3 separate regions of the Homo sapiens genome follow, and regions 2 and 3 are each reported to be linked to region 1. Evidence: microRNA targets listed by miRTarBase, many of them from high-throughput screens and not tested one by one. Region 1 holds a microRNA gene; each other region holds the end of a gene's coding sequence.
Evidence for each region. Region 1 holds the annotated microRNA hsa-miR-4319 (UCCCUGAGCAAAGCCAC, at 3,056-3,072, shown strand). A microRNA usually pairs through its seed, bases 2 to 8, with sites in the 3' UTR of a target mRNA and lowers its output. Matches are read on the target gene's strand: a 7mer-m8 pairs with bases 2 to 8, a 7mer-A1 pairs with bases 2 to 7 and ends in A, and an 8mer does both.

Region 2: miRTarBase lists SH3BP5L as a target of hsa-miR-4319. Seed matches in the 3' UTR shown: 8mer at 3,621-3,628 and 7mer-A1 at 3,292-3,298.
Region 3: miRTarBase lists SEC14L3 as a target of hsa-miR-4319. The part of its 3' UTR that is shown has no 7-base or 8-base seed match.

What each region holds. Positions count from the first base shown.
Region 1 is chr18:44,969,028-44,973,211 of GRCh38, reverse strand. MIR4319 (microRNA 4319) reads left to right here and starts at 3,046; the gene lies at 3,046-3,130. The region is part of intron 4 of SETBP1 (SET binding protein 1); the gene reads right to left.
Region 2 is chr1:248,807,932-248,812,115 of GRCh38, forward strand. SH3BP5L (SH3 binding domain protein 5 like) reads right to left here. Exons shown (of 7, transcript NM_030645.3): 7 at 2,515-4,184. The coding sequence ends at 3,969. Among named protein-coding and RNA genes, the nearest start is that of SH3BP5L, 16 kb to the right of the region's middle.
Region 3 is chr22:30,456,623-30,460,622 of GRCh38, reverse strand. SEC14L3 (SEC14 like lipid binding 3) reads left to right here. Exons shown (of 12, transcript NM_174975.5): 12 at 481-1,394. The coding sequence ends at 602. Among named protein-coding and RNA genes, the nearest start is that of SEC14L3, 13 kb to the left of the region's middle.

The DNA of each region.
Region 1 (4,184 bases):
TGCAAGGCTGGTTCAACATATGCAAATCAATAAACATAATCCAGCATATAAAGAGAACCAACGACAAAAACCAGATGATTATCTCAATAGATGCAGAAAAGGCCTTTGACAAAATTCAACTACCCTTTATGCTAAAAACTCTCAATAAATTAGGTATTGATGGGACGGATCTCAAAATAATGACAGCTATCTATGACAAACCCACAGCCAATATCATACTCAATAGGCAAAAACTGGAAGCATTCCCTTTGAAAACTGGCACAAGACAGGGATGCCCTCTCTCACCACTCCTATTCAACACAGTGTTGGAAGTTCTGGCCAGGGCAATCAGTCAGGAAAAGGAAATAAAGGGTATTCAACTAGGAAAAGAGGAAGTCAAATTGTCCCTGTCTGCAGATGACATGTTTGTATATGTAGAAAACCCCATCATCTCAGCCCAAAATCTCCTTAAGCTGATAGGCAACTTCAGCAAAGTCTCTGGATACAAAATCGATGTGAAAAAATCACAAGCATTCTTAAACACCAATAACAGACAAACAGAGAGCCAAATCATGAGTGAACTCCCATTCACAATTGCTTCAAGGAGAATAAAATACCTAGGAATCCAACTTACAAGGGATGTGAAGGATCTCTTCAGGGAGAACTACAAACCACTGCTCAATGAAATAAAAGAGGATACAAACAAATAGAAGAACATTCCATGCTCATGGGTAGGAAGAATCAATATCTTGAAAATGGCCATACTGCCCGAGGTAATTTCTAGATTCAATGCCATCCTCCTCAAGCTACCAATGACTTTCTTGACAGAATTGGAAAAAACTACTTTAAAGTTCATATGCAACCAAAAAAGAGCCCGCATCGCCAAGTCAATCCTAAGCCAAAAGAACAAAGCTGGAGGCATCACACTACCTGACTTCAAACTATACTGCAAGGCTACAGTAACCAAAACAGCATGGGACTGGTACCAAAACAGAGATATAGACCAATGGAACAGGACAGAGCCCTCAGAAATAATGCCACATATCTACAACTATCTGATCTTTGACAAACCTGACAAAAATAAGAAATGGGGAAAGGATTCCCTATTTAATAAATGGTGCTGGGAAAACTGGCTAGCCATATGTAGAAAGCTGAAACTGGATCCCTTCCTTACACCTTATACAAAAATTAATTCAAGATGCATAAAGACTTAAATGTTAGACCTAAAACCATAAAAACCCTAGAAGAAAACCTAGGCAATACCATTCAGGACATAGGCACGGGCAAGGACTTCATGTCTAAAACACCAAAAGCAATGGCAACAAAAGCCAAAATTGACAAATGGGATCTAATTAAACTAAAGAGCTTCTGCACAGCAAAAGAAACTACCATCAGAGTGAACAGGCAACCTACAGAATGGGAGAAAATTTTTGCAATCTACTCATCTGACAAAGGGCTAATAGCCAGAATCTACAATGAACTCAAACAAATTTACAAGGAAAAAACAAACAACCCCATCAAAAAGTGGGCAAAGGATATGAACAGACACTTCTCAAAAGAAGATATTTATGCAGCCAAAAGACATGTGAAAAAATGCTCGTCATCACTGGTCATCAGAGAAATGCAAATCAAAACCACAGTGAGATACCATCTCACACCAGTTAGAATGGCGATCATTAAAAAGTCAGGAAACAACAGTTGCTGGAGAGGATGTGGAGAAATAGGAACACTTTTACACTGTTGGTGGGAGTGTAAACTAGTTCAACCATTGTGGAAGTCGGTGTGGCGATTCCTCAGGGATCTAGAACTAGAAATACCATTTGACCCAGCCATCCCATTTCTGGGTATATACCCAAAGGATTATAAAACATGCTGCTATAAAGACACATGCACACATATGTTTACTGTGGCACTAGTCACAATAGCAAAGACTTGGAACCAACCCAAATGTCCAACAATGATAGACTGGATTAAGAAAATGTGGCACATATACACCATGGAATACTATGCAGCCATAAAAAATGATGAGTTCGTGTCCTTTGTAGGGACATGGATGAAGCTGGAAACCATCATTCTGAGCAAACTATCACAAGGACAAAAAACCAAACACCGCATGTTCTCACTCATAGGTGGGAATTGAACAATGAGAATACATGGACACTGGAAGGGGAACATCACACACTGGGGCCTGTTGTGGGGTGGGGGAAGGGGAGAGGGGGGAGGCATAGCATTAGGAGATATACCTAATGTTAAATGAAGAGTTAATGGGTTGCAGCACACCAACATGGCACATGTATACATATGTAACAAACCTGCACGTTGTGCACATGTACCCTAATACTTAAAGTATAATTAAAAAAAAAAAGAAAAGAAAACAAGCCCAGCCGGGTGCGGTCGCTCAGGCCTGTAATCCCAGCACTTTGGGAGGCCGAGGCAGGTGGATCACTTGAGTTCAGGAGTTCGAGACCAGCCTGACCAACATGGTGAAACCCTGTCTCTACTAAAAATACAAAATTAGCTGGGTGTGGTGGCACGTGCCTGTAATCCCAGCTACTTGGAAGGCTGAGGCAGGAGAATCGTTTGAACCCAGGAAGTGGAGGTTGCAGTAAGCCGAGATCGCCCCATTTCACTGCAGCCTGGGGAACAAGAGCAACACTCTGTTCCAAAAAAAAAAGGCCTGTGCATTTGTAATTATACCAACAGTGATGTATTCTATTGAAAACCAACTAGAATCGTTGTAAACAAAATATGAAATAAAGGTTGGTATACTATAGGTGTTCAATACATTAATAATAATCATTAATAACCACTAACATTTATGGTATATTTTCTATGAGTCAGGCATTCTGCTACATATAGGTACATATGCTACAACTTTATAAGCAGACACACCCCGTGAGTTACTAACTACTATTATCTCTATTTTGGATTTGCAAACACAGGCAGAGGTTGTTTAAATCACTTGCACAAGGCTGCCTGGCTGGATCTCTTTGGTCAGTCTCTTTCTTTTCCCATTTCCTTTCGGTGATAACTCACTGTACTAAGTCAGAGCCCATCATCACCTTTTTGGCTTGAGTCCCTGAGCAAAGCCACTGGGAATGCTCCCTGAGGACGTTATATGAGTGCTCAGCTCATGGGGCTATGATGGTCAAAGGAGAAAATGCACATGAATGTATTTTGAAAAATATGTCACTATCACGGAGCAGCCAAAATAACCAGATAAGGAGAATTAGGATTCTTTGACTCAAGGGCAGCAATAGGTTCAGGACATCTGCTTGCCTATGTGACCTCAAGTGGACATTATTTGGGGTTTTTCCAGGTGCACCTACACCTAAGGCCACACTGCTCTGCCTGCTGCAACAAAGTTTAAGGGGAGTGTTGTGTAGGTGGAATGAGGAGGTCAGCTATACACAGAAGAGGAGGCAGTGCAAGAAGCGGTAGAGTTTGATCTTCAGAATCATTTCACTTTCCAAACAATCAGGAGGATGTTGTGAGGGGTTGGGTAAAACTTCCTCTAGGCACAGAGCTATTAAATCACAGCTTCCTGGAGTTGGTACTTGGTGTAGGAGGGACAGATGGGGTTTCACAAATAAAGTCAAACCTAGAACCTAGCCATGGAAGTGCGCCTGCTTTTCTTGGGGCTGTTTCTCTAGCATGCCCTCAGCAGAATCAACATGAAAGGTCCCAACCTAAAGTCCCTCCTTTATTTGCATAAGAATATCTCTAAATGCTGAGATTTATAACTTCACAGGAAAGGCTTGGGAAGGAGGGAAAAGCTTAAAAGAACATTCTGTGTAGAGTTATGATGCTGCCAACAGTTCGTGGGTTGGACAGGGCACTGCGTTCCTAAAGATTAGACATAACTGAGGGCTTTTTCTTCTTTTTTAATAACAAGGAAATACAAATCCTCCCCTCTTGTCAGACTCTCAATTCTTCAGACGTTTTGTATCATTTTCCCCATTCAAGAGTAGCATTGAACTGAAGGGAAATTAGAAAAACTGCAGCTTTCTTCCCCCGCCTTGAAACCAAAGGAATGTAAAGATATCGAGTTTAGCTTTCTAATTACATTTCTGAGACTTCTATTTTTTAATGAGAGAAAGAATTTCAGTGGATATGAGGAGAAAGCACATGTTTTTGTGATTACTAGAATTTTGGTGGTTGGTATTTTATGAAAATGCCACAGAGCTGTAGCAGGAGGTATAGTA
Region 2 (4,184 bases), not on the chromosome of region 1:
TCTGTGGTCGTAGCTACTAGGGAAGCTGAGACAGAAAGATTGCTCGAGCCCAGGAGTCCCACGCCGCAGTGAGTTATGATTGCACCACTGCACTCCAGTCTGAGCAACAGCGCAAAACCCTGTCTCATAATAAAATAAATATTAAAAATTAAATTTTTAAAAAGGCAGTGGGGTTGTCATGCTTGTCAAAAATCATATCCAGATGAGGAGGGAAACACAACCCTTTCATAGAGTCCACTTGCCTAGCGCAAGATGGGATGAAGCCTCCGTGAGTTAAGCACTCCGAGGCTGTGAAGAGGTGCTAACAGGAATCGCTGCACCTCAGATCCACTGATGTAGCAGCATGCCACACATGCCTCTATGCTCCCATTTTATAGGCGATAAAATTGAAGCGTCATGAAATTTGAGAATTCCCATAGAGATGTGATCCTGGGATTGTGCATCACCAGGTCCTGACCTCCAAACTGCTGTACTGATAAACCCACCTGATACAGCTGTGGGCTAAGAGAAGGGGCAAGAAGCAAAAGCACATTTCCTGAGCATCTGTTGGTGAGAGCCTGTGTCAGGTGTTGGGTAGACTGAGGCCCCAGCCCCACACTTGAGGAAGATGAAGATCAGAACAATTCATTACCAACAGGCCAATGTAACATGTAACATGACACAGTACAGGAATGGGGGATGGGGCCCTATGTCCCCCACACCTTGACCATCTCTTCCTCACCTTAAACAAAATTTCTCGACCCTCTTTGCTGGGAGAAGGAGCTAAGAAACAGTATTCCCACTTCTCATCTCTTCTTCCCAGCAAAACTTCCTCGGAGATGACTACCTCCACTTCCTCACCTCCTGTTCCTGTGAGCCCAGTGGTTCAAGCGTTTGGACTCTAGAGTCCAAGTGCCTAGTGGGAGCCGCCTCCGTTACCTTCAGCAAGGCTGAGTACCCCCCATTGTGCCTTATTTTCTTACCGTGGAAAGGAAATCATAGTGTTTATCTGTCCTATAACATTGTTGTAGAGATTAATTAGGGGCGTTCCTGGTACGTGAAATGCACTGGATGAGTACAAGTTACTACAACGAGGGTGGGAGGGAGGGAGCTCTTCGGCTTCTGTCTTCTTCTCCTTAGAAGTACCATTGGCTCTAACCTTCCTGGTCTCTCTTCCCGCCTGCCGCATCTTCTAGGTGATTTTGCAAGGAGAAACGCACGTGCATGGCATAGCCCTTCTTTTCTAGGGCTCTTCTGTACCAGGAGCCTCACAGGTCCTGCCTGCCAGTGACTGGGTAGGGAAGTCCAGCACTGTGTGTCATCTCAGAAAGCCCTTCATTAGGACTATAATACTGTATTATAGACTGAAAATTTGCTGAGAGTAGATTTTAGGCGGTTTCACAACAAAAAAGGGGGGAGGTAACTGCAAAATGATAGGCCAATTTGATACCTATTTCATTATGTGCATCAAAATACCATGTTGTTCACCTCCTATACATACAATTTAAAAAATTTAAAAAGCCCACTCACCCAAAAACATATGCTATGCATTTTCATAGCAGCTTTTCTAGTAATAAAATATTATGACACCCATCTGCCAAGTCAGGGAAGGCAATCTCAAACTCCTGGACAGCACCCATCCAAAGGCACAGTGAGTGCTCAGCACATAGCGGCCCCAGATGGCCCCTCAGATGGCGTCCACAGCCACCAGGGTCACTGCTCTGATTGCGTGCCTCCAATTCTTGGCCTTCACCCTGCCCCTTGACCCCAAGGTTTCTGGTCTTCCTCCCTGCCAGCACCTTCTTCTTCCCTTGGCTGACCTCTTCTCAACAAAACTCCAAATACTGGTACACTCCAAGTGCAGCTCAGGCTAAACAAAGCCTTTTGCTCTTCTTCAAAGCTCCTGGAGTTCACATCCCTATCCAATCTCCCACCTGTGAGTTCAAGTGCCCTCAAACCCCTCCCATCCCCCAGCCAGTCAAGCCCTGACTTGGAAGTCACCTTTTATCTAGGTTTTAATTTCAGAGAAACAACGGATAATTCATAATGTAAGTACATCCTAAACACTGCAGCAGACAAAAATACTGCCTATCTGAAATTTCAGTGGGTTCACTGTATTGATAAATCTGGCATCACTACTTGTGTCCCTTCTCTACATTCATGCTCACATCCAGACACATCTAAGATCCCAACCCTCTGGCACTCTCATCTCTTAGCTCAGACAGAGCCCACTCCACCCCGCAGGCCCCTTTCTACCAAACCCTCTCCTGGCACCCATCACCTCACACAGCATGGCCCCATGAGGCACCAACTCCTCCCCTGCTTCTCTACACTTGCCCTGTACATGACCACCCTGGCCATGGGGCCTTCCACCCCCGCAAGAGCATGCATAGCGCAGCTCACTCAATCTGGTCCTTCACCTCCCTTCCCTGACCACACCATCTAAAAAGCCTGCCGCCTAACCCTGCTCTTCCCTTGCCCAACCCTTGCCTCATCTTTGCCCCTTTTCTCTTCCTCCAGCAAGGACAGTAGATGTTAACTGTTACATAAACTACTTTATTTAAATAAAACCAGGAAAGACCCTTTCCCCCTTACACACCAGCACATGCACACACGCACACCCACACCCTCCCTCCCTTTCGGCTGTCTGCCCATGGCCACCTCAAACCCCGAGGTTCTCATTGTGACCAACCTCCCTCAACCTGTAGACCCCCGTGCAGAGTCCAGTTGCCCACGCATCCCGGTTGCTGGCAGAACATGGGCCTAGAAAAGAGCACTCCATCTTCCTGGGGTGGGTCAAAAGGAAGGACTGGTTCTCCCAAGGCACCCAGATCTGGTGTGGCTTCCCTACAAACTGGGAGCACTGCCAGGCAGCTGGAGCTGCTCCCTGCGGAGGGCAGAACTTTTCACCCCAAGCCAACCCCTCCCTGTAACAAAGGAAGTAAGAGGGTTGGCAGCCAAGCTTCAGTGTGCCCCGAGGGATCCTGCAGTAGGTATTTTCAGTTTGGGGAAGAGCAAGGGAGAGCAATTGAGCACCAAATTCCCTAACCCCGTCCTGCAGGAGGGTGCTGAGTCAGTTCAGCATCCTCTACCCAGAAAAAGTAAACACAACTGTGCAGCAAGAGTGAGGGTGGGAATGACAGGGGCCTAAGCCTTCAGGACCTCATGACTTCACCCCCAACATGGGCCCTCTTAGGGACCCACTAGCACCTTGGCAATGTTGAGGACCCAGCCCAGCGGAAACACCATACCCACAGGAGCCAGTCTGGAGTTGGTGATGCTCCCTATGTTGACAGTGGGGTTGGGTTTCTCTCCCTGACACCAGCTTCCTGCAGGCCCTGTAAGTTCTGCTTTGGGGCACACATCGCAGAGTGCCTCAGGTCATGAAAGGGAATGCTGAAGGGAAAGGTGGTGTCTTCCGGAGGCACACAGTACATCTTACAGGTTACACACGGGCAGGCTGGAGCAGGACGGGGGGCAGGGCTCAGCAGCATACCTAGGGTACCCTCCAGAGTTGCCTTGGGAAGGGGGGCGGGGCTGGAAACCAACGGGAGGGGTGACTGTCCATCCCCTCCGACGGGAGTACTCAGGCCCAGCACCCATTTTCTCTGATGAGCTTCCCAGTGCCTTCTAGACCAAGTTCCCTGAGGGAAAAAGCCAAACAGATGGAAAGAGAGGGAGCAGAAAGGGAAAGCAAAGGGTCAATGCCCTGCAGATCGTGATGAGCTGGCAGGCAGAGGCAGACAGAGCGCCGAGGGCGAGCCTTCTGAATGGGTAAGGCAAAGAGAGCCGCCTGCTGAGGGGAAGGGGGAGGCTGTGAGAACGCCAGGGCAGGCACAGAGGACTCGAACACAGCTGGCCTCTCCCAGGGAAGCACTGGAGAAGGGGACCTTCGGGAAGACGAGGCCCCAGAGGAGAGGGCGTGAGAAGACTGTGGGCCCCAACCGGCCCGTGGTGGCAGATTCAAGCCAGGAACCCTGGCCCCTCGGCTACAGGCTGACGCTGCGCTGGTGCCGACCCCCACGGGCTCCGCCGTCGCTGCCCCGGCGCCCTCCACTCCGCGTTCCCAGCTCTTGGCCGTCCAGACTGACGTGGTCCGAGAGGCCTCGCAAGTGCTCCACGGAGTCGCACTTCTGCAGGTCTGAAGCCACCGTGCGCAGGCTCAGCAGACTCAGGGTATCGGTGTCGGGGGCGGGGCCGGGCCC
Region 3 (4,000 bases), not on the chromosome of region 1:
ACCTCAAGTGATCCACCCACCTTGGCCTCCCAAAATGCTGGGATTATAGGTGTGAGCCACTGTGCCCGGCCAACACCTGCTTTTTGGGGTGGTTGTGAGGAGGCAAACAGTGTCCAGCAGGCCTGCCCCAGAACCCCACTTCATCCAAGGGGGCTGGGAGGTCTCTGATGAACCCAACCATGTGCCTTCACAGCCCCGTCATGTGCGTCTCCAGGTGTGAGACAATGGGATGTAATGACCATTGTTCTCGATGCCAGTAAAGCCATGCCTGGGCACATGCCAAGAGGAGGTTGGTGTCTGTTTACAGGACCTGCTTGGGTTGGCAGTTCCCATGGGGAAGGGAAGAGGCGTGGTGGGAGCTTGGCCCAGCTTGGCAAACAAAGCCAGTGGGAACACAAGCCTGTCCTCCTCCATGGCCAGGGGTGGAAAAAAGAGTGTGTAAAGCCAAGCCCAATGCCCCTCTTTCCATCTGTCCCCCAGATGTCCTACGCTTCGACAACACCTATAGCTTTGTCCACGCCAAGAAGGTCAGCTTCACAGTGGAGGTCCTGCTCCCTGACGAGGGCATGCAGAAATATGATAAGGAGCTCACCCCTGTCTAGGTGGCTCCCTCATTTCTCAGAGACCTCCTAACCCTTTGATTTCTCTGTTTATATCCTACACTCCCTCCCTCCCTGAAATTGATTGTTAGTCCTCCTGACTCTGTGACGTTAGTGAGTACAGAAAGAGATGCCCTGGGGAAAACTCATCTACTGTGGTCAGATCAAGAAAGGTATGAGAGGCACAACCTTGGAGGGTACCAAGGTTGCAGAAGAGGAAAAAGCAAGGGTAAAGGCAAGAAGTGGGTGTCATGAAACTCAATAAATAGCAAAATGAATCCCCTAGCCTTTGTCCTCACCTACCCTAAGGCAGGTGTGTATGCTTGAATTCCTTCCGTATGGCTGTGAGCAACTTGGGTTGGAGACATATCTAAATCCTTTTTACTTCCACTCCCTATATATAGTAGATGCTCAGTGTATATTTGTGGCATTGAATGGAGGACCAGAAGGTAGGGTGCAGGTGACTCAACAGCTGTACATGATTAGGAGGAGCCTATGTGGGGTGGATTTCAGCACCTTGGACAGGAGCAGATGTGTGGTGGGGTTGGACTCTCTTCTGGAGACCCAGACAATTCAGTCTCCAGATTTCTGGCAGTGGCTGTCTTTTGAGGGCCCCAGCCACAAAGGCCACATGCCTCTGATAGGAGCTGCCTACATCAGGCTTTGTCTGACTTGCACGCTCAGCTTCCCACCCTAACCCACTTCCCTTGTTGCACATAGCTTATGTTTTAGGGACTTTCCTGGAAGCAAAGGCAGTCACATCTGGCATAATCATAATAAAGAAAACAACTATCATTTGGCGAGTGCTCTCTGTGTACCAGAAACTGTGCCAAGAGCTTTGTGAGTTTAGCATGTTTTATTCTCATGCCATCCCCAAGGCCCTTTATGGATAAGGAAATGGAGGCTCAGAGGGGTGAAGCTACTCACTCAACATCTTACAGCTTGGGTGGCAGATCCAGGACCTGGGGCAGGGGGTGTTCGTTTGTTTGTTTATTTGTTTGTTTGTTTGTTTTTTGAGACAGGGTCTCGCTCTGTCGCCCACCCAGGCTGGAGTGCAGTGGTACAATCATGGCTCACTGCAGTCTTGACCTCTTGGGCTCAAGCCATTCTCCCACCTCAGCCTCCTGAGTAGCTGGGACTACAGGTGGGCATCACCACACTTGGCTAATTTTTTTGTATTTTTTTGTAGAGATGGGGTTTCCCCATGTTGTCTCAAGCTCCTGGCCTCAAGTGATTTACCCCCCATCAGCCTCCCAAAGTGCTGGGATAACAGGCCTCAGCCACCATGCCTGGCCTGTTTTTGCTTTGTTTACTCCAATGACATTGCTCTCAGTTGCCTTGTAATACCGCCTCCTGCCTATAATCCCAGCCCTTGGGGAGGCTGAGATGGGCGGATCGCTTGAGCCCAGGAGTTTTAGACCAGCCTGGGCAACATAGTAAGACCACATCTCTATCAAAAAAATTTAATATAGTAAGAATATGACCTCCTAAGATTCCACTTTTACAAAGGCAGTGAGAAGGCATGATTTATTTGTTCTAGACCTTCCAGTAGAAGTGTCCTGCATGTCACCCTCTCCAGTCCCTGTTTGTGGGTAGAGGAGGTGATAGGCCATAGAGACCCACAATACTGAAGCAGCTTGTCCAAGGAAATTCACAGCAGAGTGGGGCAGGGCTTGTGTTCCTCAGCTCAGCATCCTGTCCGCTGCTCACATGGCATCTGTGAAGCACAACCCCCTGACGCTCACCATGACCCTGGGTGACTAGGGCAAAGGCCAGGACTCCAGAGTTTCCTTCCCAACTTTCTGCTGTGATTCGGGGACGTGAAGAGGCTGGCTTGAGCCCCAGTCCCTGACACAACTCTTGCCAGGGGAGCCGGATCACACCCGGGAATGGGGATGAATGGGAACCAAAGGCTGGTGCCATGAGAGGCTCCTTGGAAACAAACAAACGGAGGGCTGAGCTCATCCGTGGGCAGGCTATGAGGTCTGACTCAGGCTAGTCAAGCAAATATTCAGCAGCAGCAAGCACTTTCCCACATGCACTTATGGGTGCAAAATCTGATATCTGCTTTATAGATGGGAAACTGAGCTCCCAAAGGCACTGGCCTTGTATCTTCAGCCTACAGGTGACAGAAATAGTCCTGGAGCTAAGGCTGCCCCTTACCCCGTCACCTCTTCACCCCCACCACTCTTCTATAACAATTTGTCAGAATGGGACAAGACTGCCTTCTTCCTGAGCTGGCAGGGAAGGAGGAGGGAGGAGGAAGGAGAAAGGAAAAAGGAAGGAAGAGAAGAGAAAATGAGGGTTGTCAGATTTAGAAAGGAAAAAAAAAAAAAAGCATGGCCAGGTGCAGTGGCTCATGCCTATAATCCCAACACTTTAGGAGGCCAAGGCAGGCGGATCACTTGACGTCAGGAGTTCGAGACCAGCTTGGCCAATGTGGTGAAACCCCGTCTCTACTAAAAATACAAAATTTAGCCTGGGGAGGTAGCACATACCTGTAATCTCAGCTCCTCAGAAGGCTGAGGCATGAGAATCTCTTGAATCCAGGAGGTGGAGATTGCAGTGGGCTGAGATCACACCACTGCACTCCAGCCTGAGCAACAGAGCAAGACTCCATCTAAAAAAAAAAAAAAAAAAAAAAAAGACATACTTAAAATGTATCCATTGTTTATCTAAAATTAAAATTGACCTATGCATCTTATATTTTATCTGACAATCCTACCAATGAGGGAAGATGGAGGGAAGAGAGAGGAAAGGGAGGAGGATGGAAAGAGGGGGATGGGTTCACCTTCTTGGAAGACGGTGGCAGCACCCACAATTTGGGCCAATGATGTCATGGAATCCTTGGGAGAGGATGGCTTAGTGTGGGTGATGCAGGGTCGGGGGACAGGGTGGTCTCACCCTTGACCACCAAAGGAAAGGCCTCGATGTTGAAGCAGGGTCTGAGGTAGAGAGTGTGGACCCTTTGTGCCTTTGGGACTAAGATGAGCAGTGCTGTTGCCAGAGCTCCTCTGTGGCAGCTGAGTGGAGGGGACTTGCACCAGGAGGTGGAGCAGTGCAAAGAACCTAAGGCCAGGGCCAGAGCTGAGATCTGCAAAGTGCCCATCAGCATCCGCTGATGCCCACCCCTGGCAAGCCAGCTCCCACTGTGTGCACACAGCCAGTAAGAGGCAGGCTTCCCAAGCTCCAGCTTCTAGCCTCCAGTCTTACTCAGGGTCTAGATGCTCAGCTCCAGTCCTGAATCTCCAGGAGGCAGCATTGGGGAAGGAAAGAGACCCACTTTGTAGCTTTGGCCAATGGTCACTAATAGAGTTTGGATATTTGTCCCCTCCAAATCTCAGGAGGAAATGTGGCCCCCGATGTTGGAGGTGGGGCCTAGTGGGAGGTGTTTGGGTCAT